Linked DNA regions of Homo sapiens: regions 2 and 3 are each linked to region 1. Evidence: fine-mapped expression QTL. A gene starts in region 1. Each other region holds a variant in brackets. All regions are shown on one strand. Distances are between the middles of the regions. Region 1 holds the start of LPGAT1 (lysophosphatidylglycerol acyltransferase 1). Region 2 has its middle 87 kb from the start of LPGAT1-AS1. Region 3 overlaps LPGAT1-AS1 (LPGAT1 antisense RNA 1).

Evidence for each region. PIP is the estimated chance that this variant, and not a neighbour inherited with it, causes the effect.
Region 2: its variant is fine-mapped to the expression of LPGAT1 in whole blood (INTERVAL, PIP above 0.99).
Region 3: its variant is fine-mapped to the expression of LPGAT1 in lung (TOPMed, PIP 0.95).

What each region holds. Positions count from the first base shown.
Region 1 is chr1:211,826,076-211,834,260 of GRCh38, forward strand. It overlaps LPGAT1 (lysophosphatidylglycerol acyltransferase 1), which reads right to left and starts at 4,688. Exons shown (of 8, transcript NM_014873.3): 1 at 4,498-4,688; 2 at 2,984-3,248. The coding sequence starts at 3,221. It overlaps LPGAT1-AS1 (LPGAT1 antisense RNA 1), which reads left to right and starts at 4,886. Exons shown (of 6, transcript NR_135820.1): 1 at 4,886-4,965; 2 at 5,181-5,337. RefSeq lists a silencer at 4,113-4,872.
Region 2 is chr1:211,913,570-211,921,754 of GRCh38, forward strand. No RefSeq gene overlaps it. Among named protein-coding and RNA genes, the nearest start is that of LPGAT1-AS1, 87 kb to the left of the region's middle. RefSeq lists an enhancer at 3,075-3,244. The variant G/A (reference allele first, on the strand shown) is at 4,138.
Region 3 is chr1:211,850,670-211,858,854 of GRCh38, forward strand. It overlaps LPGAT1-AS1 (LPGAT1 antisense RNA 1), which reads left to right. Exons shown (of 6, transcript NR_135820.1): 4 at 852-937; 5 at 1,034-1,103; 6 at 2,893-3,034. Among named protein-coding and RNA genes, the nearest start is that of LPGAT1-AS1, 24 kb to the left of the region's middle. RefSeq lists a silencer at 4,560-4,739. The variant G/A (reference allele first, on the strand shown) is at 4,727.

The sequences.
Region 1 (8,185 bases):
AACAGACCAGAAAATCCCTTTTCCATCTTCTGTGCCTACAGACAGTTCCCCAGCTCTGAGAATGCAAACTAAAGTATAAGAATGTTCATTTAAGTTCTTGGGCTTACTGGCCTCACCATTACTCATCCAAGAAGCATGTATGAATTTACAGGGCTCATTTTTGTGATGAGTTAAGAGATAGTTTAATAAAACTTTAATAAATCTTCTTGTCTTTCACAAAAAAAATCTGTTTAGAACTAAGGAAAGATTTTTTAATAAAAATAAAATTTAGTTTTCCTAAGAAAAGAAAACCATGCTTACTATATCAGCTTTGTCCAGTAGTACTTGCTGTGATGATAGAAGTGTTCTGTATCTGCACTGTCCATACAGTAGCCACTAGCCACCTAGTACTGAGCACTTGAAATGTGGTTGGTGTGCCTGAGGAGCTAAATGCTAAATTTTATTTCATTTTAATTAATTTAAATTTAAACAGTGACATGCAGCCAGTGGCTACTATATGGGGCTGTGTAGGTTAGATAATCAACATAAGTCCTCATCAGCAGAGCTGAGTAATTCACTCATATTACACGGAATGTCATAATTTGGAAAAAGATATATATATATATATATATTCATTCTATACCAATATACCAATATTCAATTTTTAGCTTCCTAATTAGTATTTAAGGTTTCCTCATAAGTGGTTTCTCAACAAAGTTTTGGCAATTTTTATTCTAAAACATGAACATACTTAATCTGCTGAGCAGAATTCCTTTGGCAATGTTCAATTTTCCATCTGTGAAACTTGGGCATAGGGAAAAAAGAACTTCTTCACAAGCCCACCCTCCTATTGATGTAAAGGGAAGAAGTGAAATATATTATCTAAAGAAAGGCTAATATAACACCTGACATTATTTTATGGGTACACCTGTTCATCAACCTCTGCTTAGATGTGCTTCTTTAAACTCAGCTGAGGCTTTCAACCAAATTCATTCCTACATTTGTTTGACTTCTTGACTATTTTCTTTTATGATCAGACTATGACCAGGCTCTCTGAAATCAAGTATTCTACCTATAGGAAAACCTTTTAAAATATATACATTAAAACAGTCTATATTTAAATGAGACAAACTGATCAAATTGTCAAAATTCAGTAGCCTGAAGAAGAGCAGATGCTTCAGAGAGACTAAAATATGCAGATCATGCCAAGACCACATTCCAAGCAGGTGGCAAAAGAAATTACACAGTTCTATAGTCAGCAAGGAAGAGATACCCCAAGAAAATATGCTGAAAAATACATTGCAGCTATGCTATGGCCATAGGACAACTAACTTTGACTTCAAGCAGCACCACTGCACTCCCAATCTCAAGGTCAATGCCAAATTAATTTTACCTTCCCACCATGCTAACAATTAAATACACTATACACACGCACAAACATTTCAGTAATTTCATTTTAAGCAGAATGAACTTCTAGAACGGGTTTCTGAAAATACTATAAGCTAATTTAAAACAAGCAAACTTAAGTATACTATACAAGAATAAAGCCACTAGTACCATATAACATATATTTGGGAACACTCAAACTATACCAAGCCAAGCAACTCTAAGACAGCAGTGCAATTCAGGTAAGAATTCAGCACCATAGATTAGAACTTCGTTTTTTCTCTACCACTGCTATTGCTACCACCAAGTCCTAAAAAAGGGCTAGAAGCACACCTACTATATCCAAAAAGCATTGGAATCTCAACAAGACAGATGACAAGGAAGCAACGCATACACTATCCCAGGGGCTTCAGCTCTTGCATTATTATGCCACTGCCTGAAGGAGAAATAAATAAATAAATGCCACTGCCTGAAGGAGAAAAGGCTTCATCTGGGGCAACTGAGAATACTCAGACATAGCAAGGGTCTGTCAGACTCCATAAAAGCTGTATACTATCAGTCCTTCTCTTGCGTGTGTGGATAAAATGTGCAGGTGCAGCCTAGGCAGGAAAGAGGGAGACAGAATTTCAGATGGAGAACTGCCATACTGCTTGACCCTGGGAGTACCCCTCCTCACTCTGCCAAGCTATGAACTACAGCCTCTACTGACCACAGCATCTGCATGATCTTCAAGGAGCCTGCCTATCAGGTAGGAATTTCTGTGCTAAAAGCCTCCACATCTGACAAGTGCTAAAAACCTCTATGATTTTTTCATTATCTTAATTCTTAAGGGAAAAAAATCAAATAAATACAATAAACGATACAGAATTTTCACAGCAAGGGCATAAGTTCTCAAAGCATATAAGGTTTATCTCAGAAAATAAACACTTCTCATTTAGTTCTATAAAAGTCCACTTCTGAATAGTGTTACTCTTGCTTCCCCAAATGCAATTTAAAGGCAGAAATCACAATCTATTTAAAGACACTCAGAAGATAAATTAGCTTAACAAAGTTAACTTAATTTTTTATATTTAATACTCTCAGATTTATGAGATAAAATATAGATTCTAATAAACAAAAGAAACATACGTAAGAGAAAAGAAAGCCATTTTTGCTTGCTCAAAAGGCTAACAGTACAATATCACGTTAAATGATGAAGAAACTTATTAAACTATCTTAGCACAAATATGGTCCCATTCTTTTTCTAAATTTCCAATGTTTATGGGCATCTTCCATGAAATAGATGAAATATCTTACATCTTCACTTTATAAGCTCTCGAGTCCTATACAACGCACTCCTATTCCTCTACCAGAGCTTTTGCAGACCAGTTTTAATAAATGTATGTCAATCACAATAAAAACACTAAGAAATTTACCAATACATAATTATGAAATTATACTTCTGAAAACATTGGTCTTCCTGAGATTCTGAAGAGAAACCCAATAGAACTGTTTTCTTTTTATTTTTTTCAATAGTGAAGACATGAAAGCATCCTCAACCCAAAGTGTAATATACATTTAATCATGGTTCCTGACAAATTTTTTCTTATGCATTAAAGAAAAGTGTTCTCACTCTTACCTGTATATCCAGCATACCATCCCCAGGAAGCTACCATTCCTAAAAGCCATTTATACATGATTCCTTCGATATACCAGAACCGCTTACTGTCCAGCACTCGAAGGGGCTGAAGTATAATTACATAGCAGATGTAGGATGGAATAGCAACCAGGTTGTTGACGACCATGAAGGCAAACCTCATCAGTGCTTTCACCAAGAGCCAGCCCAGCCACGGAGCTTCTTCCAAAGTTATAGCCATTCTCACACTGGACTCCGTCCTGTCTTTCTGGGGTGAAAGAAAAATTCACTTAAAAAGGAAAATTCATTAAATACATCTAAACAGTCACCAACATAGAAATCGCCCCCAGCACAAAATAAAACAGCGAGGGTCGAAGCTTTCCGGGTGTAGTACCTCGGTGATCTCTCAGGGGAAATTCCAGAGGGGGACAGAGAGCGAGGGAGGAGGAGCCGCACAAGGTCAAGGGAGCTGTTCACCGAGGCACGAAGTATGTCACAATATATTTAGCAAATGATAACACAATTCCCATTCAGTAATCGGTGGCCGTCCCCGCACCGTGTCTCACTGCGGTCGTCTATTGGACTTAGAAAAATAGATCCACTCGCTTCAGACAACCTCAGGATCTCCAAACTGAAGACACAAGTGACATGACCGAAACAGGGTCCCCTCAATAAGATTTCCCAGATACTGAGGACCTCAGTCTCCTCACCACCACGATTCCTGCACACCGATGCATTCCTTTAAAAGGTCTCTGGCTCTAGCGAAGAGTTACCCTCAAAATTCTCATTTGTAGCAATAGGGTTTTTGTTTCCCTTTTTTTTTTAAGAAAAAAAATGGGGGGCCTAGAAAAAAAGCTTACAAGGTGAGAGGAAGAAAGTAGGGGGTTATAATGCGAAAAAGAGGAAGGACAGGAGTAGGGGGAAGGGAGCAAAAGCCAGAAAGAGGTAAAAGCCAAGGAACTGGGGATGAAGAGAATGAGATTTCCGACCAGAGGGCAAGGAAGCAGGGGATGATGAAAGGGGCAGAGAAGAGGCGACCGCAGCGCGGGGAGCCGGTGGAGCCTGCAGCGGTTTCCGCGGATGTGGAAGGGTCGTGGCGGCGGGCGCGGCCCGCGCGCCGGGCTCACCTCGGCGGGCGCGGACGGCGGGCGGCTGCGGAGAGCGGGGGCGGGTGTCCCCCGCCGAGGGGTCGCGGTCATGGACGCGGTGGCGGCCCAAGCGGCCCGAGGCGCTGCGCGAGCGGGCGCGCTGGCGCCCTACTCCCCTCGCGGCTGCCTGCGGACAGAGGGACGGCGGGGACTCAGAGGCCGGACCTGTCACCCGGGCGGGTCCCGGGGAGGCGGGCGGATGCCCCGCGCCCCCGCCTCCTCCCCGGGGCCTACCGCGCCCTCGTCCCTCAGGCCGCTGCCGCCTCCCCGGGCCACGCGACGACGACACCCCCTTCCCCGCCCCCAGCGCCTCCCCTGGCCCGGCTCCGCTGCCGCTCTGGGGCCTGCGACCGCGGAGCCGGAGGTTACCTCGGGCTGGCCGGGCCCCAGCCGGGGCTTTGGGAGTCAGAGGAGCCGGAAGAATGCATGGCCGGCGGCGGGGCCGGCGGAAGAAGGCGGTGGCGGGGCCCTGCCCCGCTCCGGCTGTGGCGCGGCCCGCGCCCGTTCCCCGGCGGCGCCGAGACTCGGTCCCCAAGGGCCCGGCCGCGTTCGCCCGGACTGGCGGGGAGGGGCGGCGGGAGGAAGCGGCGGGAGTCGGGACTGCGGCGGAGCCGCTCCCACAGCGCCCTCTAATGAAAGCGCCGCCGCCGCTGCCTGGCCCGCTTGCCCCGCCTGGCCCGCTCCCCCTACCCCTGCGCCAGCGAGTCGGGGCCCTCGGGGCTACCTGGACGCTCGGCCAGGACCTCAGTGAGTCCAGAACATACTGAGGGAAAGGGCCGCTCGGAAAGATCTAGGAATGAACACCCATCCTCACACCCCAGGAGTGCCTTGGTTTCAGTTGAGAGCCCCCTTTCAGCCAACACGGCCGCCTTTCATTGTTAGGGCTCTCTTCTCTGCCCAAACTAGGAACCTGTCTCCTTGACGGCTAAATGTCCACTTTTCATTCTTAATGAAACCCGGTTGCACTCATGGCTTTTCTTCTTAACCTCTGCAGTGTATTATTGTCTAGAGTTTCAAATTCATTCTTTTTACGGTCAAAAGTCTTGTTTCAGGAAAGCAGCTGGAACATTAATGGCAATTCCACTTTCCCATTCATCGCCCCCGCCCCCACCACCCCACCAAGAAACTCAGTGGGAATGAATGGTCTACACAGAGAAACTGAAATCTGGTTAGTCAAGAAGGAAAAAACAACCAAGTGCCTGGCATTAAGTAAGTACTCACCCGCCCGCCCTCCCCCGCCCGCCATAAAAAGAAAAACCGAAAAGACAAAAAACAGTGGCCATGGGAACTCCTAGACAGACCCCGTCACTTGGGATACTATAGCTGCATTCTGGTTCAAAGGCTGGACCACCTGAAGGAAAATAGAGAAATAGTCCATTGACCTACCCCCTTGAGCATTCTTAAATGATCTGCCTAAATTTTAGTTTTTAAAAATCCTGTTTATAAAACCTTATGTCCCTTAAGCACATTTGTAAATGGAGGGGATGGGGCAGGGCAGATTTCACACTCCCTAGGGAACTGCCATATTTGAATCAGAATGCCACCTATTCTGCCTATTTTGAAAATGTTCATCACAGCGTTTGCTCTGGACTCTCAACTTTCTCTAATTTCAGTTCCTCTTAGGTCCACAGGTGAAGGAAAGATATGCCCCATTCTATTCCTTGCATTCTCTCTTTATTGACAAGGTAGTAAGATCTTTAAATAAATCTCATGAGAGAGATAATATATATACTTTATTATTCAAAATATGTCATTATATTCTTCAGTAAGATAGGTGAGGTACATATTTATTTCCACAATCAAGAATAAACTCTAAGGATTCCATCTGGTCCATGCAATTCAGCTTTCCCACATGCTGCGTAAACGTTGGCTGACACCTGGAGAGAGATAACCTACAATGGGATTTACACGTGATTCCTGGATCAGGGACCATCTGCCAGAGGACCAGACACAGCAGCACTTGATGAAATGCAATTAGTACCAGGCCCAGAATTCATTTTCAGGCTCAGAAAAGAGCCAGAGGTTGGGCAGGACCTCTGGCTCTTTAGTGTACAAAAACAACACTTGAAGTGTCTACCAAAGAGACAGATTCTTCAGCATCATACCAGAACATTTTAATAATCTAGGTCCAGTGGACCTGAGAACCTGCTTTTTAAAAAGCGTCATAGGTGATTCTGATGCAAGTAGTATGCAGACCTTGCTTTAAGAAACCCTGACTTAGAGGTATTCTGAGATGATCACATTCTCTTCTAGACCCTTCATAATTTTAAATCATTTGATCATATGTGTTCTCATGTGTGTTAGTCAGCTAGAGCTGCCATAACAAAATACTGCAAACTGGGTGGCTTAAACAACAGAAACTTATTTTCTCGAAGTTCTGAAGGCCAAGATCAGAGATCAAAGTGTGGGGAGGTCTGGTTTCTTCTGAGGCCTGTCCCCTCGGCTTGCTGATCACCATCTCTCATTGCAGAATTCTGCCATTTCAGTACCTCCTTATGGAAGGAGTAGGGAATACCTAATCTCCTTGATCTTTTCAGATATCCTCATATTAACTGCTTCCAACCTCATTGGACTTTTCTTGAAACTCAACCAACAGTACAACACATTATGTTCCAGGTATAGATATGCCCTGGTTTTGTGCCAAGAGTGTAGGAGAGGGGTTATCTTCTTAACTTTCTGACCACAATATCAGTTTCAAGATAATTCAGCTGCTATAATAGATAAGAAACTGTTAGGGCTGACTTCTTAAGGGAACAATTTCAGATGATGCTTGTGTTTATTTCTTGCATTTCGAAGTTCGTTTTAGTTAGTTTTACCTTCCTCTTGCCTATACTACAATTTTTTTGCCCTGCCTCCTTTCAACCACTTAGGAAGCCTCCTGAGATTGTTCCATAGCCTATTTTATTGCACCATGGACAGAGAGATGTATGAATGCTCTGAATGACTGTAACAGGAAGATTGGAACAGCCAGTTCTCCAGGGTAGACTGTTCTGTGGAAAACAAGGATCTTCTTCAATGACTAGTTAGCTTCTAGTCCCCTATCCTGCTACCTTAGAGCCATCTTTATCAAAACACAAACATGAAGCCAACAATTTCAACACCTTCATGTACACTCCAATAGAGAAAAGAGGGAAATGAACAGACCCCACCCTATAGCCACAGACATTATTGTTTCTGTTTCAAAAGCCCACATTTGAACCACAAGAGAATGGTCCTTTGAAAAAGAAAGAGGATTTCTTACATTTCTTGGAATCGCCAGTCATTTGAAAGCAATATAACCACAATACCTTAGAAGGTTGAATTCCACCCATCTAGTCCACATACACACAACAAATTAGGTTATAACCAGGGAGAGGTTCCCTTGGGCAGAAGAGTACCCCCTGGGCCCTCTCTTTTTCCTAGTGGCAATTATAAAAACATTTTACCTACCTGTGTTGGTTTCTGCACTAAAGCTCCAGTGAACTATTTCCTGTCTAGGGAGAAACCCTACCAGCAATAACCTTCAATGACTTGGCACAGGCCCCCTACATTGCTAGGAAACAGTTGCAGGCTTGAAATCAGCAGCCCAAAAGAGTCATGCATTCTGACTGTTGTCAGCTTTAACTTCAAACAAAAAATGGAAATATATATGGATGTTCTCTTCTATATTCATGTCAATAATTATTTTATATAAAATGCTCCAGGGCTTATAACCTTAAAATTTTTCAGATAGGGTGAGCCAAATCATCCACACTTGGCTGAGTGTGGTGGCTCACACCTGTAATCCCAACACGTTGGGAGGCTGAGTCAGGCAGATCACTTGAGGTCAGGAGTTTGAGACCAGCCTGGCCAACATGACGAAAACCTGCCTCTACTAAAAATACAAAAATTAGCCGAGCGTTATGGCACCCGCCTGTAATCCCAGCTACTCGGGAGGTTGAGGCACGAGAATTGCTTGAACCTGGGAGACAGAGGTTGCAGTAAGCCTAGATCATGCCACTGTACTTTAGCCTGGGCGACAGAGCAAGACTCTGTCTCAAAGAAAAAAAAAATCCTCCAGACTTGACTGCAACTCTCA
Region 2 (8,185 bases), 87 kb after region 1:
CACACACACTCACATGCAGACATGAACACACAGACACACGTACACATGAACACACACACACACACACACACACACACAAGTGGGATTAAGCATCTGTGGTAAATTAAAAATGACTCCTAATTCTTTGCCACTCCCCGCACTGAACGGTGGGGTCTGTTTCCACTCCCTGTGTATCCAGGCTGGGCCTGAGACTAATCTGTACCAATAGATTGAAGTGGAAGTAACACTGGGTAGCTTCCAAGGCTGGGTCTTGAGAGACCTCAACTTCTGCCTTCATCTCTCGGAGCCCAGCCACCATGTGAGGAGGACTCACTAGCCATGTGAAGAGGCGCACATGGAGGAGAATGGAATCCTGTGGCTGAGAACGCCAGTAAAGCTCCAGATGGTCCCAGTACCAAATGTGAGCTGCCCCAGAGCCCCAGTCAGTACCAAGTGATACAGAACAATCCACAGAATCATGGGAAGTAGTAAATTGTCATTTTAAGCCACTAAATTTTGGGATAGTTTGCTAAAACAGCAATTGATGACTGAAACAACTACACAGAAAAATAGTATTACATCGTGCTTACTATGTGCTCGGCGGTTATAATTTTTAAATACATATTAACTCACATAACCCTTACATTAACCTGATGCAGTAAGTACTATGATTTTATATTATTATCCCCACTTTACAGATGAGGAACCTGAGGTGCAAGTGAGCAAGCAATGGGGCTGGGATTTGAACCTGGGCAGTCCATTAGGATCCATGCTCTAAACCATCTGTGCTCTAAACCATCATATCCCACTGCCTCTCTGCTGCTTCCTTTCATTTAAGACATCACGAACAACTTTAATGTCAAGAAATATCAACCTACAACATGATACTTCAAGCTACATGTTGAAATCTGTTGAAATACTGATTTGAGCTCCAAAGTACTAGCAATCTCTTCTAGTTTGGGGATTATCTTCAGTGGATTTATAGCCTATTAATGTCTTTGAGTGTTGGTAATTTTTCTTTTTTTTTGAGATGGAATTTCGCTCTTGTTGCCCAGACTGGAGTGCAATGGTGCAATCTCAGCTCACTGCAACCTCCACCTCTCAGGTTCAAGTGATCCTCCTGCCTCAGCCTCCCAAGTAGCTGGGATTACAGGTGTGTGCCACCATGCCCAGCTAATTTTGTATTTTTAGTAGAGATGGGGTTTCACCATGTTGGTCAGGCTGGTCTTGAACTCCTGACTTCAGGTGATCCACCCACCTAAGCCTCCCAAAGTGCTGGGATTACAGGTATGAGCCACCACGCCCAGCCTTTTTTTTAGGGTTGAAGTTTTTGAATAAGACAGAACTCAGGAATGAGCCTCCATGCACCCACCTGAGATTTTCCAGAGCAACATCATTCAGTAATAGTCTGTAAGTGTAGATTGTTTAAAAATCTAGTATCTGACCAGTGTTCTATGATCTTAGCCACTTGTTCCCAAGTGCAGGGTGAGAGACAGGCCACATAAGAATAACCTGGTACTTACAAAAAAGTACAGACTCACAGGCCTTGCCCCAGACCCCCGAGTAATAGCATTGCTGAAAATGGAGCCCCGGAATCTGTATTCTAACATCCCTCCATGTGATGCTGATGACAGCTAGGTTTGGGAACCATTGATCTAATCACCATTTCTCCTTCTTATCCATATTGATGGATTTATTGAATCCTCTACCAAATTCCAAGTCCACTAAGGGAATTTGCTAGTGACCATTTGAGAAATGTCCTGGCTCTGCTCTTCACCAGCTATATGATTTCATCTCTGGACATTTTTTATCTGTCAAATAAGGAAGTTGGATTAATTATTGCAGTGGATGCCATGGTGCTGTGGTGAGCCCACACATCCCATCTTCAAGATCCAGTCACTCATTCCCTCAACTGTTGGCAGTGTTGGTTGGCTGCTGCCAGTTCTCAGGTGTTCCAAGTTCACGTTTCCTCCAGGGGTGAAGCCCGTGTCCATTGACTGGTTGATGAGGAAGTATAACCTAACCTCCTACACCCTTGTCTCAAGGTGGGCCAACTGTGAAGAGTTGTCCCATGGGTTTGGCCTGAGACCTCTGTTGCATCTACACCACAGTTCAACCCATCCCTCTGCCCTTGCACTCTCTTCACTCCCCCATAGGTGTGGGTCCCAAGGGCATTCCTCAATAAGCTTCTTGCACACAACCTCTATCTCAGTAGTTTCCTAAGAAACCCACTACCACAATGACTGTTGGCACAATGATCTTTTGCTTCTGACTTGGATTGAGTTGACAGCAAAGATGCCTCTTAGGACCTTTTCAAACACCTTGGGCTCGTTGTTGAGCTTGAAGAGCCTTCTTCTCTTCAGCCTCCTCCCATTCATTCTTCATTCATTGAGCAAACTTATTGTACCCCTACTATGTGCCAGGCCCTAAGCTCAGCTGGGTATTCAGAGACTTGCCTGTGTCTCAAATAGTGGAAAAGAATAAGCACTTAGAAGCTGAATGGCTCCTCTGTCTCTGTGATTTGTTATCACTGTGCTGTTTCCCAAGCTATGGGACTAGTCCATCTTCTTGTCCTGAACTTCACCTAATAGGCCTCTTTATTGCCCTGCCCACGGTTTGTAAGGCCCCTCTCTGTAGTGACTTTAATCTTCCTGACACTATTCTTATGAGTTTGTGTCTTTCTTTCTATTCCCTTTTTAGCTTCCAGGTTCCTTCTTCCAGCTCTTGCAGCCAGCGTGGGCAAGGGCCAACATCAATGTTTTATCCATTTAGGACACTAGTGTCTATTTCAGCCTTATGGGGCTTTCAGTAGTAGAAAATTTGGGGAAAAGGGTCTCAAAACCTTCCAGATGGGCTGGGGCAGAAGTAGGGGCTCAGAGTCCAGTTTCCATCCAATAATCCATGTAGGGCCAACCCACCTCAGGCAAAACTGAAATTAATCAGACATTGCTGCTGCCACCCCTCTTTTGGTCAACTCCAGCCCCTGAGGGTGTTCTTCAGCCCCATCTCCCCATTCGCCTTCACAGATCTGCAGCCTTCCTACTTTATTTTCTGAACACTTCCCCCTTCCTTTGCTGTCAATCATTTTCATTTTTTACTTGAATGAGTCTGAGTCACAATCCACCTTTTCCAGGGATTATCTCATTTTAAGCTTTTTCTTTTTTTTTGAGACAGAGTCTCGCTCTGTCACCAGGCTGGAGTGCAGTGGTGTGATCTTGGCTCACTGCAACCTCCACCTCCTGAGTTCAAGCGATTTTTCTGCCTCAGCCTCCTAAGTAGCTGGGACTACAGACACACACCACCACACACAGCTAATTTTTGTATTTTTAGTAGAGACGAGATTTCACCATGCTGGCCAGGATAGTCTCGATCTCTTGACCTAGTGATCCACCCGCCTCGACCTCCCAAAGCGCTGGCATTACAGGTGTGAGCCACAACACCCAGCCTCATTTTAAGCTTTTTCTTACGCCACGTTGCAACCTGAAAGGCTTTGTCCACTGGACAAAGCATCAACAGACACTTAGAATACAGAGGGCTCTTTTTTAGCCCTTTGCAATCACATGACGTCCAAGGGCTTGTCACTGAACCAATGTAACTATCTAGCACAAGAGCAGAAAGGAATCAAATCCAACACTCTCATTGTATAGATGAGGAAACCAAGGAACAGTGAAGTCAAGCAACTTTCCCAAGGTCATTACCAGAACAAGAAAGGAAGACACCTTCTACAAGGAAAGAGTATACAGATGGTACATTTTAGGAAGGGCACGGCCTGTGGAAGGTGCTAATTTCTAGATGCTACTTTAGAGTATGACTTTGATTGATTACTTGCAAAAGTAGACCTATGCTTGTTAGTTATGCCTCTTTCACCTGCTACTCCTCCACAGTTGGTCAAGACCAAGCCCTAGTCATCCTTATTGATTGAATTAGGAGCAAAATCTAGGTTCTAGTCCTCCTAATTCTACTACTTACAAGTTGCCTCACCTTAGGAACGCCATTTAACTGCTGTCTCCTTATTTTCCCAGTCTGGCCTTGTCCTCACCGTTGTGGGGTATCAGGCAAGATAAAGCACACAAAGTCTCTCTGCATGCCGGAGAGCATTTTGCAGCATGAGGAGATGTTTTCTGCCCCACCTATGTACTAGAATCCTCCAAGGAGCCC[G/A]TAATGTGAGTGTAGGGGTCAGGGGCAGGCTGGTGACTGGATGCTTTTGTTTAAGTTCCACCAGTGATTTTGATGCACATCCAAATGTGGAAACCACTGACAAAGTACAAAAGACAAACAGGAGAAGAGAAATAAATTGTGAGCTAAAGATGCAGGCATGTTTTAAGCTCTCTTTAGAGTGGATAACTAAGGGCCAACTTAGAGAACAATTAAATTGCCCATCTTTTTCAAGGTACCTGAAACCCTAATCTCAAGTCCCTTTTTTCTTCCTGGAAAAGATGTATATGACTTCAATTACATTACTTTTCTTACCTAGCAATCTAAACACACACTGAAGATTTCACACGCACACACACACACACACACACACACACACACACACACTTCGTGAATCATCTCTGCCTGGTTGCATGCTGAAGTCAGATTCCGAGTAATGTCTGTTATTCTTTAACCTCTGAGTAATCACTCTGGCCCTGGTCTGCTCTTTATCGTCCAGGAAAACAATCTGATCAAGCCTTGGATGATGGATTCATAGTTGCTCAAGTCTCCAGAGTGCTGTATAAACCAGACTATTAATTTATTCCATGGGGATATTCTGTGAAAGTCCTACTTCTCCTTTTTAATAATTGAGTGGCCTCGAGCAAGTCACTCAATCTCTCTAGGTCTCTAAGATGATTATGATCACTAAGCATCACTCTTTACAAAGTATTTCCTTCTTTGTGACATCTCTCTTTAAAATGTCAGTTGAATGTTCTCAGAAACTTGTTGCAGTGGGCATAACATTAAAGAAAATGGGTAAGAATGAGAACAATGAATTTAAGGAACATTTCATTCAGTCCATGGGACACCAGAGTGGACAGCTGTGACTTGTGTCTGCTCAGCACTTCTTCTGCTCTTCAGGGGACAGAACTTCCTTCCATGGGGGAACTGCTCCTTTCTTCTTCCACCTGGTTGTGAGGAGGCTGCTGATCAAAGGACCCTGGCCTCCTCTTCTTCGGCCACAGGGGTGGGCATGTGACCCTGATTCAACCGTAATAACAACCTACTCACCTAGCCACAGTGATTGATCTGGGAATTCATCCAAGGATCAATCTGAAAAGAGAGAGAGAGAGAGAAAAGAAGAAAGAAAGAAAGAAAGAAAGAAAGACAGAAAGAAAGAAAGAAAGAAAGAAAAGAAAGAAAGAAAGAAAGACGGAAGGAAGGAAGGAAAGAAAGGAAGGAAGGAAGAAAGGAAGAAAGAAAGAAGGAAGGAAAGAAAGAAGAACAAGAAAGAAAGGAAGAAGGAAAGAAAGAAGAAAAGAAAGAAAGAGAGAGAAAGAAAAAGAAAGAAAGAAAGAAAAAGAAAAAGAAAGAAAGAAAGACAAAGAAAGAAAGAAAAAGAAAAAGAAAGAAACAAAGGGAAAGAAAGAAAAAGCAAGCCAGGGATTTTTCTAAATTAAGCTTGTAGGGAAAAGTATCTTCCCTTTCTGGTCAAGGCGCTTTATCAATATGACCCCATGTGCCACATGAGAAGGCTGGGAGGACAAGGCCACCAGCCAGAAGGAAGAAGAAATGAGGCAGTGAGAGACAGAGATGGAAACAAGGAAAGGGTCTGTGGTGTCGAGTTCCCAGGTCTGACTCTTCCTGGCGTCATCTGGCAATTGTTCTTTTGATTCCTCGAGCTACCCCAGAGCTTTCCCCAAAAGTCACTCTCTCTTTTTTTCTCACTTAGGTCAGTTTGTTTTAGAATTTCTACCACTTGCAACTTAGTCTTGATGAACAGAAACTCTCCGACAGTTTTCCTCTCAACTATACCTTAAAAGAAACGTGGTCCCAAATTTGAGGCTCTATGTCCTCTTGTCACCTGGCCCTTGACGGCAGCCAGTCTTGCCTTGCTTTCTGCAAGCTGCACCTTGTTCACCCACGCCAGGCCAAGCAGTGACTCTCGTGATTCTTCACCTCCCCTTTTCAGATCTTTACTTCCCCACTTTCCCCACTGCATTGTGTAAGATCTCATTCTTATAATAAATACCTTAGTCCATAATAATCAGTGGTTCTGCTTCCATGGTTTGGCCCTGATTAATGCAAATGCTATTGGGTTGGCCCTGACAAAGAAGCTTCCTTCTTCTTATTATTATTATTATTACTTTTTTTTTTTTGAGATGGAGTTTCACTCTTGTCACCCAACCTGGAGTGCAATGGCATGATCTCGGCTCACTGCAACCTCCGCCGCCTGGGTTCAAGCAATTCTCCTGCCTCCTCAGTAGCTAGGATTACAAGCACGCGTCACTAGGCCCCACTAATTTTTTTGTATTTTTAGTAGGGAAGGGGTTTCACCAGGAATGTTGACCAGGCTGGTCTCGAACTCCTGACCTCAGATGATGCGCCCACCTTGGCCTCCCAAAGTACTGGGATTACAGGCGTGAGCCACCGTGCCCAGCCAAAGCTTCCTGCTTCCCTTCTTTGCTTCCTGCCCACACCCCCTCCATCTCTCCATCCGCCCCTCCTCTCCAGTCACCACATCTCCATCTTTCCTCATCCTCTCCCTGCGTCAGTGGGAAGGTCTGATGCAGCCGCTGCTCCTCTTAACCACTATGCTATTTACAGTCTCAAGCCCTCTTCTCTCTGACCTCTGCCTGGTTTCCTTTTGCACTATTTCCTGAGCTCCATTCCCAGTCGCAATTCTGTGTCTGGCAGGCAGCCTGAAGATTTAACACAGGCTGGCACCCAGCAAAGGCAAATGCCAAGATGCCCTGCCCAGAGCTTCCCACTCATTATTTCCAATTAGAAAATGTCACTAGGGAAGAAAACAAATACGCTCAAAGATAACTCAGAGAGCACTGTGTGTTTGTTGCCTGGAATAGATGCCAAATAAATATTTTATCAAAGGAATTTACATAGTAAAACTATTTGAGTTGGAAATTATCCAGGAATACTTTCAAAATGAACATGGTGGTTTTTTATTTTATTTTATTTTATTTATTTTTTATTTTTTGGTAGTATGCATGGATTTGAAATTCCCCCTGGGAGCTGGCTCTGTTTTTGATGAGCTCAAGGTCTCTTCCAGCTCTGTGATGATGGCTCAAAGGCCAGAGCTTCTGATCCCAGCCCAGCCATTGCTCAATGTGAGTCAGCTGAACTCTCTAGACTTTGCCTAGTCTATCTGGATCAATGAAATAATCAGAGAAAAAAAAATCAAAATCATTGTATCTTAGGCTTGGAAGCAACCTTACAGGTTATCCCTAATTAAGGAAGCTGGCTGTTGTCTGTCTCCATCCAACCCCTCTGGCTTCGCCAGACCCGTCACTTAGCTGGGACCCCGTGGCCATACAGTATTGTCTTCTCTCAGCAGGCAGATGCTGGGTATGGTGACTCAGGCCTCTGTCCAAGAGTTGGGACAAGTGTCTAATGCAGAATTTTCTTCATGTAGAATTAGACACTGTAAATCTTAAAAGGACATTGTTACCCAGGTTGACATGGGACATGTGAGAGGAAGAATAGGCCAGGCGCAGTAGCTCACACCTGTAATCCCAGCACTTTGGGAGGCCAATGTGGGCGGATCACGAGGTCAGGAGTTCAAGACCAGGCTGGCCAACATGGTGAAACCCCATCTCTACTAAAAATACAAAAATTAGCTGGGCGTGGTGTTGTGTGCCTATAATCCCAGCTACTCGGGAGGCTGAGGCAGGAGAATCACTTGAACCAGGGAGTCAGAGGTTGCAGTGAGCCAAGATCGCGCCATTGCACTCTAGCCTGGTGACAGAGCGAGATGCTGTCTCAAAAAAAGAAAAAAAAAAGAATAATGTATTGGAAACAAGAATGAAGCAGGTAGCTACTGTTCTTAGGCACCTAGTATGTGCTACACAATTTATATCTATGTTAACATTTAGTCCTCACAACCACCAAGGAGGCTCTCTCCAATTTACAAATGAGGAAACTGAGGTCCGGTAATCCCAAGTAGTATCCCTCGAGTTGCACAATTGGTGATTGGCAGATTTGGGATGCCAGACACTTTGGAGTGACCCTGACCTCTCTTCTCTTTCCACATACAACCCTGCACCCCACACCC
Region 3 (8,185 bases), 25 kb after region 1:
GCTATTCTGGGTCCCTTGAATTACCATATTAATTTTAGGATCAGCTTGTTGATTTCTGTAGAGGCCAGATGGAATTATGATAAGGATTGTGTTATATCTATAGTGCCCTGGGGAGTATTGCCATCTTAACAATATTAAGTCTTTTCATTCTTTTGTCTTCTTTAACAATATTTTGTAGTTTTCAGAGTACAGGTTTTATACTTCTTTTATTAAATTTATTCCTAAGTATTTTAGTCTTCTTGATGCTGTTGTATATAGAATTGGTTTCCTAATTTCATTTTCACAGTTTTCATAGCAAGCATATGGAAATATAATTAATTTATGTATATTAATCTTGTATCCTTCAACTTTGCTGAACTCATTTATTAGTGCTCATGGTTTTTAAGTGGATTTCTTAGGATTTTTTATATAAGATTATGTCACCTGCAACCTGAAGGTTCTTATGGAGGATTACAACAACTGTGCTGTCGTGGGGCTAAGCTGGGGGTGCTTCATCAATCTTTTCAAAATAGTGGTGTGTTTTTTGCCGAAAGCTTTTCATTTTTCTCATTAGAAAAGATGAATCTCTCAACAAAAATTATTACTAACTCTTTATATATTACATTTCAGCTGGCCACCGCTGAAAAAACACGTTTTTACTTTTTACTGCAAGGGTTGCACTTATCAATCTGCACAAACACATGAAAGCACATGAGGTCATGATTCCAACAAACTTTCAGTATTGATCTCTTTTATTCAGGAGGCATTGTGGTTTATGGAAGAGCTTGGCTTGTGGAATTGGGAGGCTGGTTTTCAATCCAAATCTATCCATATTATCAGTGAGACTAATGCTCACCCAACTCAATTCACAGGCTTATTGTTGAAAGTCCAGTGAGCTACCTCAGGCTTTTCTCTGTGGAATGACTGTTGCAGAGAACTGCACCTCAGAAGAATGGAGGTACCAAAAGAGGCTGAGCTGTACCCTGGGCAATGCTTACTTTTTATTTTAGTCAAGTCACTTCCTGGGTTTCATCGGGGACAATTCCTTTCCTAGTTTAAAACTGTGATGACATTCTACCTCATTGAAGAAATCCTCCAGTGCCAAGGGTGGATCTCTAAAGAAGGTATACCCATATCTCACCCAGCTTGGTACCTGCAGGCTGAAGAGTATCTAAGGTTCTGCAATGGGAAAATCATAGTAGTGCTCAGGAAGAAACAACAGGCTGTATAGCCTTATCTTAGTCACAGAGCCAAGGCTTTGTCACCAGGATGGAAGATTAGCAGGGGGAATTTTATGCCTATCATAATGTTCATTGTATTAGCTGCACCACTCCTTCCTTCCTTAATATGCAATTAAAGGCTGACTTTAAAAGAGATAAATAACATGTCAATTTTATGATAGCCAAAGCCAATAACCTTACCATGTGGTTTCCTAGCAAGGCTCAAAAGCAGAGTGGCAAAAGTATGGCCCTAGAGTCAGATTGTCCTTGGGTTCCAATCCTGGCTTTATCCCTTAATAGCTATATGACCTTGGCAATGTATGTAATCCCATTTCCTTAACTGTAAGGAGTATAATTATAGCAATTCATAGGAATTATTGCAAGAATTGAATAAAATATATATCGTTCTTACCACATGATAAACACATGATACATTTTAGCTAGTAGTAGTATTCTTCAAGGCATTTAGTTGATTAAGCTAAGAAAATGCATTGGCTTGAAGGAGGGCAGGTGGACAATTAGAAAATTTTTTTTTCTTTTTAAGATAAAAAATTTAAAAGATAAGAAATGGAATAAAGTTTAAAAGGTTTCAAGTTTTAAAATCTTTTTCAAAAAGAAAAGAAAATGCATTGGCCAGTGAAAGCATTATAATTATGATTCTTTCGTTTGTTTCTGAGACAGGGTCTCTCTGTGTTGCCCAGGCTGGTCTTGAACTTCTGGGCTCAAGGGATCCTCCCTCCTCGGCCTCCCAAAGTGCAGGGATTACAGGCGTCAGCCACTGTACCCAGCCACATTATAACTGATTTTTTTTTTTTTGAGACAGAATCTCGCTGTGTTGCCCAGGCTGGAGTGCAGTGGTGCAATCTCAGCTCACTGAAGCCTCCGCCTCCCGCGTTCAAGCAATTCTCTTGCCTCAACTTCCCAAGTAGCTGGGACTGCAGGTGTGTGTCACCACACCCAGCTAATTTTTGTATTTTCAGTAGAGATGGTGTTTCACCATATTGGGTAGGCTGGTCTTGAACTCCTGACCTCACGTGATCTGCCCACCTCAGCCTCCCAAAGTGCTGGGATTACAGGTGTGAGCCACCACACCACAACTGATTTTTAATTGAAGTACACTCCCAATGTTTTTCAAACTTTAGTATACATTAAAATCACCAAGAATGTTTTTGTAAATGAAAATTTCCAGGCTCTAACCTCTCCTGTCCACACTCCCTGAATTTCTGATTCAGTAGTCAGTGGCAGGTCCCATGAATCTGCATCTGTAGCAAATACTCCAGTATTCTGATTCAGGTGATTCATGGATACTTTTTAAAATTAACTTTTAATTTTGATATAATCTCAAATTTACAGAAAAGTTGGAAAAACAACCCCAAATTTTTCACATATGCTTTACTAAGATTCATCAATTTTAAATATTTTGCTATATTTGCTTTATCAATGTTTGTCTCTGTCTATAAAAATGTTTTCCTAAATTATTTGAGAGTAGGTTGCATATCATCTCTATAGCCTTTAAAACTTCAGTGTATATTTCCTAAGAATAAGGATATTCTCTTTACATAACCACTGTTCAGTTATTAAATTCAGTGAATTTAACATTAATAAAATACCTATATCTAATATATAACACATATTCCAATTTTATTGATTGTCTCAATAATGCCTTTTATAGCTACTTTTTTTTCCCGTACAGGATTCAATCCAGGATCACATCTTATATTTACAATAACATGCCTTTTTTCTCCTTCAGTCTGGAACCGTGTCTCAGTCTATCTTTGTTCTTTATGACATTGACATATTTTAAAGAATAAAAGCCAATTCTTTTATGCACCATCTCTTATTGTGTGTTTGGCTGATGTTGTCTGTTGATTAGATTCAGGTTATGCATTTCTGACTGGAATCATACATAAATGATGTCCTTTTCAGAGTGTTGTCTCTGGAGACACATGATATCCACATGATATCTTCTTGGAGAGACAAACCACACTTAAGAAATATTTGACTACTTCGAGAGATATTTGACTTGCCACTTTCTGCTCCAAGAGGCCTCAGAATCTAAAGTAGTCAAAAAAACAAGACTTCTCTCCTGAATGTTCTGATTGATTGTAATTTGTTAAGGGGCTTATTTAACCATTGCCTAATTACTTTAGAATATGATCACATATTAACCACAGCTGCTATTACATTCAAAACCACAACACACCTTCATATTTATTAATAACTTATGCAGTTTCCCACCTTTCCCCCCAACCATTTCATTCTTAGTAACTCTGGATCATAACATTTATTTCATGGTTAATACAGGTAATCTATGTGATGTTTCATATGACATGACTAAATCAGTTAATGCATATGTCAGTTATGTCATATGACATAACTAAATCAGTTAATGATGGTATTTTGAAGCTAGTAGAAACCACTTAATTCCTTACATCACACATTTTACAATGTGTAAGCTTCCTCTTCAATGGTGTGTTTGGAAATATTCACTTATTTTTTGTTTAATCCTAAAATATACTTATCCATGAACTGCAATTTATATTTTATCATATCACTTAAATTTCCCTGTAAAATTTTTAGCCAGCTGCCTCAGTGTACCTACTGCATTGCAGACTATATATTTCTCTTGGAATTCAGTCATTCATTTACCTGAAAAAGTTCAAAGACTGAAGAAGAATATGATTTAAGTCTTAAAGAAGCTAGCATTTATTGAGTACTAGCTTTATGCCAGCCACTGTTGAAATGGGAATTCCCTTGTCCCCCTTGCAGGGCGTGCGATGGGAGTGTGGCTTGCTTCTTCAGTGCACCACTGCACAAACTTCTAGGGGAGCATACAGACGGGCAGGCTGTGGGGCTCCAACCTCAAGGCAGTGTCCAGCAGTGAATGTTTACAGCTGAAGCCCCAGTGGGTGTGTGTTACAGGGTGCTCTTTTAGTTTTGCCACCTATAGGCGGCTTGTGTTAACCGGCTCAATTAGACCCTCTAACTTGTCTCAAGGACAGAGGGCTTTCTGTATCCTGGGTTCTTGCCTTGGTGTACTGGATGAATTGGATCACACGTGGGCTTGGAGAATGAGTGCAAGGTTTTATTGAATGGAAGTAGCTCTCAGCTGATGGGGGAGCCAGAAGGGAGATGGTTTTCCCCTGGAGTCTGGCCGCTGGGCAGCCCCAGATCTCCTCCAACTGCCCCAGGCAAACCTCCTTCTCATCCCGCCTGTCGATGGCCTATCGGCATGCCAACATCTATTGATGTGCTCTTCTGCCAGCATGCTCCCCTTGACATCTTTTCACCATCCAGCCACTTGTGTCTTCTTCCACTGACGTGCTCCTCTTGATATCCTGCCGCCTGTGTCTGCCTGCTAGGGTCTCGGGAGTTTTTATAGGCACAGGATGGGGTTGTGGCAGGCCAGGGTGGTCTTGGGAAATGCAACATTTGGGCAGGAAATGCCTGTCCTCACTTAGGTCCATGGGGGTGGAGCCCTAGCCAGGGACGAAGCCCTCCTCTACCTAGCACTTCCCTTCCCCCAC[G/A]CCCATTCCATATCCTTTAAAGGGTCCATGCTCTTCCCTTCCCAGCACTTCCATACCACTATTACATATTACCTCACACCAACCAGAGAGGAATGTTTTTGCTACCACCATTTTGCAGACAAAAGAACAGAACTAAATAATTTGCTTAACACCAAACAGCTAACAAATGATACAACTAGGATTTAACCCTAGGTCTGATGAACTCTGAATAAACTCTTTCTGGCTACCTCCCATAAAATCGCAATGGTAAGGATAGAGTGAAAAGATTAAATTCACAAATTTCAGAATTCCATAATTAGGGCATGCAATCTAAAGTCAGATGAAATGGAAATGCAACTTAAAGTCAGATGAAAATATTACCTTACTAAATGGTCAGGAAATGGTAAGGAATTTTTTTTTTTTCAGTTGCAAGATTTAATAGAGTGAAAACAGAGCTCCCATACAAAGGGAGGGGACCCAAAGAGGGTAGCCGTTGCCGGCTCGAATGCCTGGGTTTATATCCCAATCATTGTCCCTCCCGCCATGCTCTCAGGCAACAGATGATTGGCTATTTCTTTACCTACTGTTTTTGCCTAATTCGCATTTTAGTGAGCTCCCTTTACTATCTGATTGGTTGGGTGTGAGCTAGGCTAGGGATTCTTAGTCGGCCTAGGAAATCCAGCTAGTCCTGTCTCTCAGTTCCCCCTCTCAACAGGAAAACCCAAGTGCTGTTGGGGAGGTTGGCCAACGACTGCTCTAACTGCTTCCTGCTGAATTGGGGCATAGTAGGGGCTGTGCAGTTGAGATTTCCTTGGGAGGGGTGCCTTCGATGTCATTAACATCGGAGCATGGGCTAGCAGGCCGGTCCAGGGGTCCGCAGTAGATCTTAGTCGTGGACTGCATCTGGAGCTCCATTTGAAGAACCATTTGTAGTTGCACAGCTTCGATTCTGGAAGAGACAAACTTAACAAGGAGGTTAAAGACACACGGTCCAAAGAGGAGTAGCAATATTATAGCTGCTAGAGGTCCTAAGAAGGGGAGAATCCAGGGCATCCATCGGCTGAGGAGGCCCCAGGTCCAGTGTTTTGAAGCTCCTCTGCTCTACATTGTATTCGATCTCGAATTTCGTTAACTTTCTCTCGGTGACGATTCCGGATTGATTAACATAATAACAGCATTCTTCCCCTAAAAATAAACAGGTTCCCTCTCTTTTGGCAGTTAGCAAGTCTAAAGCTCTTTGATTTTGAAGGACTACTGCTGCTAGGGAGTTAAGTTGATCTTGCAAGGTGACCAGGGAATTGGTGACCCGTTCCATGTCATCATTTAGTTCTTGAGATAGTTTGTAGTAGAACTGAGTAGAGGTTGTGGTACCACCAATGCCAGTACCTAGTCCGCCTAGCACTCCTGCTCCGATAACAAAAGGAAGAATGGGCACTCTTTTGTTGCAGGGCTTAGGTGCAACATGATTGTATAAATCTTGTTCAGTGTAGATGGTCATGCGGGCACTAAGAATGAGAGGAAGCACATAGATTCTGAAGAGCCATTCAAACGATAGGCTGAGGTACCACAGACAAAAAATATTCCTGAGGATAAGCAGACTATTCCTGTGGGAGGAGTTACCCACCTTATGCATTGGGAGTTGGTTCTATCTATAGTATTGCTAAATTTTATAGAGATGAGGTTTGAGGTATGGGTTATTTCCAGATTGGAAACAAGAGGTCCTACTAAAACGGAAGTAGTGTTTATTTTTGTGCTGGAGTTGTTCCATTGTTCAGGTACAGGGATTGAAATGTATGGCCTGAAGTGCAGGGGGAGGCACATCCAACAGTTAGTAGGGTTTTGGGATGAGGATAAGCCAGTATAGGCTGGATACGTTCCTCACTGAGGGCCCTGGTGCCTTTGGATAATTTTAGCTGTAAGTATTTAACCTGTTGTGAGCAGAGCTGAGCCTTTGGTTTGGAAACCTGTAGCCACAGGTGGCGAGGAAATTGAAGAGTGCTTGGCTGGCTTGATGGCACAAGGTTTCTGAACAGGCGGCTAAAAGTAAATCATCCATGAACCGAAGGACAAGAGTGTCCAGGTACGAAAACTGGCTCAAGTCTTGGGCTAATTCTTGGCCACATAGATGGGGGATATCCCTGAATCCTTGGGGTAAAACAGTCCAGGTGAGTTGAGACGTTGGGTTTGAAGGATCTTCAAAGGCAAACAAGAATTGAGAGTCAGGATGTACAGGGATGCAGAAAAAGGCATCCTTAAGGTCCAGGACTGTAAACCACTCTGCTTCCTCTGGTATTTGGGAGAGCAGAGTATAACGATTAGGGACAGCTGGGTATAGAGGGACAACGGCCTCACTGATAATCCTGAGATCTTGCACTAACCTTCACTGTCCGTTGGGTTTCTGTACTACTAAAATTGGAGTATTGCAGGGGCTATTGCATGGTTTTACTAGGCCTTGCGATTTTAGGTCCTTAACAATTTTTTGGAGTCCTTGTTGGGCCTAAGCCTACAAATTATTCAATGATGTCCATTATAACACAGGGAAAGGAAGAAAATCCTACTGCCTTTCTGGAGAGACTAAGGGAGGCATTGAGGAAGCATATCTCCCTGTCACCTGACTCTATTGAAGGCCAACTAATCCTAAAGGATAAGTTTATCACTCAGTCAGCTGCAGACATTGGGAAAAAAACTTCAAAAGTCCACCTTAGGCCCGGAGCAAAACTTAGAAACCCTATTGAACTTGGCAACCTTGGTTTTTTATAATAGAGATCAGGAGGAGCAGGCGGAACGGGACAAACGGGATAAAGAAAAGGCCATCGCTTTAGTCATGGCCCTCAGGCAAGCAGACTTTGGAGGCTCTGGGAAAGGGAAAAGCTGGGCAAATCAAATGCCTAACAGGGCTTGCTTCCAGTGTGGTCTACAAGGGCACTTTAAAAAAATTGTCCAAGTAGAAGTAAGCCGCCCCCTCGTCCATGCCCCTTATGTCAAGGGAATCACTGGAAGGCCCACTGCCCTAGGGGACGAAGGTCCTCTGAGTCAGAAGCCACTAACCAGATGATCCAGCAGCAGGACTGAGGGTGCCCAGGGCAAGCGCCAGCCCATGCCATCACCCTCACAGAGCCCTGGGTATGCTTGACCATTGAGGGCCAGGAGGTTAACTGTCTCCTGGACACTGGCGTGGCCTTCTCAGTCTTACTCTCCTGTCCCGGACAACTGTCCTCCAGATCTGTCACTATCCGAGGGGTCCTAGGACAGCCAGTCACTAGATACTTCTCCCAGCCACTAAGTTGTAAATGGAGAACTTTACTCTTTTCACATGCTTTTCCAATTATGCCTGAAAGCCCCACTCCCTTGTTAGGGGGAGACATTCTAGCAAAAGCAAGGGCCATTAGACACCTGAACATAGGAGAAGGAACACCCATTTGTTTTCCCCTGCTTGAGGAAGGAATTAATCCTGAAGTCTGGGCAACAGAAGGACAATAT